2 separate regions of the Homo sapiens genome follow, and region 1 is linked to region 2. Evidence: fine-mapped expression QTL. Tissue or cell type: non-classical monocytes. Region 2 holds a variant in brackets; the other region holds the start of a gene. All regions are shown on one strand. Distances are between the middles of the regions.

The links. PIP is the estimated chance that this variant, and not a neighbour inherited with it, causes the effect.
Region 1: HHAT starts here. The variant in region 2 is fine-mapped to the expression of HHAT in non-classical monocytes (Schmiedel 2018, PIP 0.95).

What each region holds. Positions count from the first base shown.
Region 1 is chr1:210,327,231-210,329,985 of GRCh38, forward strand. HHAT (hedgehog acyltransferase) reads left to right here and starts at 1,672. Exons shown (of 12, transcript NM_018194.6): 1 at 1,672-1,874. RefSeq lists enhancers at 845-1,014, 1,889-2,248 and a silencer at 1,479-1,728.
Region 2 is chr1:210,369,596-210,372,350 of GRCh38, forward strand. The region is part of intron 3 of HHAT (hedgehog acyltransferase); the gene reads left to right. Among named protein-coding and RNA genes, the nearest start is that of HHAT, 42 kb to the left of the region's middle. The variant A/ATTT (reference allele first, on the strand shown) is at 1,015.

The sequences.
Region 1 (2,755 bases), 42 kb before region 2:
AGATAAAATACCCAGTTAAGTTTGATTTTCAGATACCCAGGATGTAAATTTGAATTTCAGATATACCATTTTTTTTTTTTTTTTTTGGTAGAGATGGAGTTTCATCATGTTGGCCAGGCTGGTCTCGAACTCCTGGATTCAAGTTATCTACTCACCTCGACCTCCCAAAGTGCTGGGATTACAAGCTTCCTGTAAGTACTTAAAAAAAATAAGTATATCCCAAATATTGCATGGGTCATAGTGATACTAAAAAGTTACATATTGTTCACCTGAAATTATTTACTTATTTTTTTGAGACAGAGTCCGGCTCAGTCACCCAGGTTGGAGTGCAGTGGTGCGATCTGAGCTCACTGCAACCTCTGCCGCCCGGGTTCAAGCGATTCTCGTGCCTCAGCCTCCCAAGTGGCTGGGATTACAGGTGCAGGCCACCACACCCGGCTAATTTTTGTATTTTTAGTAGAGACGGGGTCTCACCATGTTGGCCAGGCTGGTCTCAAACTCCTGGCCTCAAGTGATCCTCCTGCTACCGCTCCTAAAGTGCTGAGATTACAGGCGTGGGCCACCGCGCCCAGCCTGAAATTCAATTTTAATTGAGTATGCTGTATTTTTATTTGCTAAATCTGGCACTCCTATTTGGGGCTAGTTTACTAACACCTGCTTACTGAACACCATCCAGTACCAGGTTTTGGGGTGAGTGGGTTGGGGGGAAGCAGAAAGAAAAGATAGCTCCAGCTCTTGGAGAGTTCATACTCTGGTTTCCTGGAGAATTCTAAAATCATTAAAATAATCCTCTCGACCATTACAATGACTGCTAGATGAAATTTCTGAGAGCACAGCTTCCGAGTTTCCCTGCTGCCTAGGGCAGAGTTATCCACCTTCACCTTATCATAGAACCACCTGAGACGCCCCTGCCATGGACAGTCTGATGCTTTTGGTTTGGGGAGGGATCCAGAAGCCCGAGGTTTTAATGAGAGCCACGTGATTCTGCTGAGATAAGTCTGGAGAACTCTGGCAAGCCTGTCTCTTGGCTCAGGCTTGGAGGCCTCCGAGCAGCAACATCGTCCCAATTATACCCCGTTGGAGCATCTTCAGATCTTCCACTCTTTTCACAACGCAATCAAAATCTTCGTACCCATTTTGCAGTAGTGATCTCTGTAAGTTGCTTTACAATTCATAAAGTTTATTCTATTTGATCTTCACTCTAATTTACAAAGAAAAGCAGGGAAGTCTATTTCTGTTTTACAGAGGTGTACAGGGAGGCTCACAGGGGCTAAGTTCACACAGTAAGCCCTCGAAGCTGCCAGGGCTGCAAAGCCCACCCTCTTTCCACCGCACCGAACTACCTCCTTTCGCCTACAAAACGTAGGTGGGGACCACTGGTGTTGGAATGACGGCCCACCTCGAGTTTCAGGTGACTTCCACTCTGCAATTAACTTGCAGGCAGCCCCAGACCTGCAATGAACACACGGGTGGGGGAGAGATATGCACGCCAGGGTCAGTGGGAACCAACAGCCGAGGGGTGAGCGGGGCTAGGGGCCCCGGGCCGCCGGCGGGGCAAACGCGGTTCAGAAACGCAGGCCGCGCTCTGGCCCGCCCCCTGCAGCAGCACGGCCTGCTCGCCATCGCCCGGAGAGCGCCGCGGGTTCCCGAGTCCGGGCGCGGAGGGCGCGCGGGCACGGCGGCAGGGGCGTGCTCGGAGGACGCGCGCTGCGCTGCTCCTCCAAAGGGCAGCTCCGGGGGAAAGAGGGTGGCGTCCCGGGGAAGCCCGCAGCCGCCGCCGATGTCGCTGGGACTCGGAAGTGCCGAAAGAGGGGTGTTGGGAACTCGCGGCGCGCGTGAACGTTGCCGTCGCCGCCGCCCGGGACAGCCCGGAGGTTGGTAACTGGTGACCATAGGGGGTCCTGGGGAGGTTAGATGCTGAATTTTCTGCGTCAGTTTACTCTGTTAAAAAAAAAATGCACAAAACGCTTTCCGTTTCCTACCCAAGTTCCCGTGTGCGCGCCCGAGGGCGGGACAGAGGAAGTTCCCGGTCGGGCGAAGAAGACAAAAGCGGCGGGGGCCGCGCGCGCAGTGCGCCCGGGCAAAGGCGGGGATCTAGGCGCCGGGACAAGTCCGCGCACGGCCCTGCCCACGTCCTCTCTCCTTGGCTTCGTCCCCAGCTTCCGGAACTGCTGCGGGGAGTTGCGAACTCTGGTCCTCTTGGCAGTATCGGCGGTGCGCCTGCCTGCCTGCTGTGACTCCAGGGACTCTAAAGTTAGAGACTTCCTTTGCGTTCTATCTTCAGGACTCAGTTTTCTTCCTCTGTTCTGAGTCTAACCTTCAGGTGGCAGGTCTTTATGCGGAAAAACCCTCCCGCTAATCCTCACCAGAGGTACTTTACGGGTAGCATTGGTGTTAAGAAATGTGCTGCTACCTGTGTACATTGCTCTTGGATCAGGGTTGTAGGGCTAGGGCATTTGGCATCCTCAGAGGTTTGCATTACGTGGGAGTGAGACATTGCTTCTCTTTCTGTTTTTGTTGTTGTTTGTGTTTTTGAGGCGGAGTTTCGCTCTGGTCGCCCAGGCTGGAGTGCAATGGCACAATCTCAGCTCACTGCAACCTCAGCATCCCGGTTTCAAGCGATTCTCCAGCCTTGCCTCCTGAGTAGCTGGGATTACAGGCATGCGCCACCACGCCCACCTAATTTTGTATTTTTAGTAGAGACGAGGGTCTCACCGTGTTGGCCAGGCTGGTCTCGAATTCCTGACCTCGGGTG
Region 2 (2,755 bases):
CACGTGCCAGGGATGCTGTGACATTCCAGGCTCAGTCTCTGTCCTAAGTGGGCTCTGAAGTTTGGGGGAAGGTGATGATGTGACAGTGAGCTGGTGGTGCAACAGCCACTGGGGCTTGTAGAGACAGAGGGTGCAGAGAACCCCAGCGGCAGGGACTGAAGGGAGGTGATGGCTGGGAGACGGGAAAGGTAGGTGAAGGGTATAGCATGCCTGACGACCTGGATTTGAGTGAAATAAATTTGGCTTGGCTAGAAGGTTGAGTTGTGAGGAGGGCAAATGACTCAAGACAGGGAGGGGATAGATCGTAAAGGCCATGAAGTGCCATATGCGGAGTCTGGACTTTATCCAGAAGGCAGTGGTCAGTCATTGAAGGGTTTCAGGTGCCATTTGTTCTGTGGACTCTTTCTGGAGCCCTCTGACTGATTTTCCTGCCTTGCCCTGTCTCTCTCTTCTTTCTCTTCTCTCTCTGCATACACATATACACACACACACTCTTGATCTGTTAGTTTTGCAGAGCTAAACCCTTGATTCTACCTTCACCTTATTTTCTCCTAGCTTCTTCAATGACTTTTTTTTTTTTTTTTTTTTTTTTTTCCTGAATGCAGAGTCTCACTGTGTCACCCAGGCTGGAGTGCAGTGCATGATCTTGGCTCACTGCAACCTCTGCCTCCTGGGTTCAAGCGATTCTCCTGCCTCAGCCTCCCAAGTACCTGGGATTACAGGTGCCCATCACCATGCCTGGCTAATTTTTGTATTTTTAGTAGAGATGGAGTTTCACTATGTTGGCCAGGCTGGTCTTGAACTCCTGACCTCATGATCCACCCATCTTGGCCTCTCAAATTGCTGGGATTACAGGTGTGAGCCACTGCATCTGGCCTTTAAGGACCTTTTTAATGAAACAAATAATATTTCCCATGAACTACTAGATAGAAGAGAGAGAGAACAGAGCAGGGTACCTGGTGGCTAAAAATTAATAAGCAAATTTGATGTTTATCCATTCACATTGCAGATGCT[A/ATTT]TTTTTTTTTTTTTTTTTTTTTGGAGACGGAGTCTCACTCTGTCACCCAGGCTGGAGTGCAGTGACATGATCTTGGCTCACTGCAACCTCCGCCTCCCGGGTTCAAGCGATTCTCTTGCCTCAGCCTCCCGAGTAGCTGGGACTACAGGCATGTGCCACCATGCCCAGCTAAGTTTTTGTATTTGTAGTAGAGACGGGGTTTCACCGCATTAGTTAGGATGGTCTTGATCTCCTGACCTCGTGATCCACCAGCCTTGGCCTCCCAAAGTGCTGGGATTACAGGCATGAACCACCACACCTGGCTGCAGATCCTATTTTTACGTTAGGCAGAGAGCTACAATTCCTATTCCTGTTCTCACCAGGAAATCACTAACATCTTACATTTTTCCTACCTGTCCGCAAATTTACATGTCAGGAAGAAAATCTAGCATGGATGAGACTAGACAAAAGGTCATGTACTGATGGGTAAAGAGCCGGCATTCTTTGTGTTCACAAGAAGGAAGCAAACCTGACCTTCCATCACCAATCATGGGTTTCTTTTTTTTCTTATTTATTTTTTTGAGACAGAGTCTCACTCTATTGCCTGTGTTAGAGTGCAGTGGCACAACCATGGTTCACTGTAACCTCTGCCTCCCAAGTTCAAGCGATTCTCGTGCCTCAGCCTCCCAAGCAGGGCCTACAGGCATGTGCCATCATACTTGGCTAACTTTTTGTATTTTTAGTAGAGACAGGTTTTCAACATGCTGGCTAGGCTGGCCTCAAACTCCTGTCCTCAAGTGATCCACCTGCCTTGGCCTCCCAAAGTGCTGGGATTACAGGTGTGAGCCACCCTGCCTGGCCTAATCCATGGGTTTCTTGCCCCTGACATTTTGGAGACTCTTCAACCCACATTCTTTGGAGGGGCTGGCATGGAACACAGGAATCTGTCTCTGCTAAGCAAGCCTCTCTGGGAAGGGGAAAAACTGTATAAAATCCAGTTTTCTGGTAAGACAGGCTGAACATTCACGCACACAGCCAAATCACTTATTAATCTGCTCCCATCAGATGGAGGGAAGCAGAGAGATGACAGACATGCTGGAATAATCTTTGAGGGGCTGCGGCTTAATGAAAATGAGTTAAGGCCTAACCTCTGTAAACTCACCAGAGTTTACACACATGAAACAAAGCAAACGTTGCCAAGAGATCAATGTTCCTTTATAAGAAGTCCCCAACCCCAGTGGGCATATTCACCTCAATTCAGCAAACATTATCAAGAGTCTACTAATGTTTGAGGGAGTTCGATGCAAAGATGAAGACATTCCCACTGTTGAGAATGGTGAGAAATTTCTCAGTCACAAACCAGTCAGCTTACAAGTCAGTGCTTACTGCCTGCTTTCTGATCTGGGTTGTGATAATGCTGTGGGTTAAGGAATTAAGAGGCATTATTTCTCTACTCAACAAGTTTATACTCTATTTGAGAATTCCAGGAGGACACCCCTAGCTTTAATATGGCTGATGTGTGAAGTATTTAACAAGGGCCAGAGCTGTACACAGCCAGGACAATTGGCCCTGCTCGTGGGTCCTGCCTGAAAGCTGGCCCTGGCATGCCATTTAACAAAGTGTTTTCCATATGTATGATTGTCCCTAGTCGGTGTAGCCAAAAATTGCTGGGAGAGTTTCTAGCCTTGGAATGATCAGAGAAGACTCTCTGGAATAGGTGGATTGGAGCTGAGTCTTGAATAGAAGTACTATGTTTTGAACT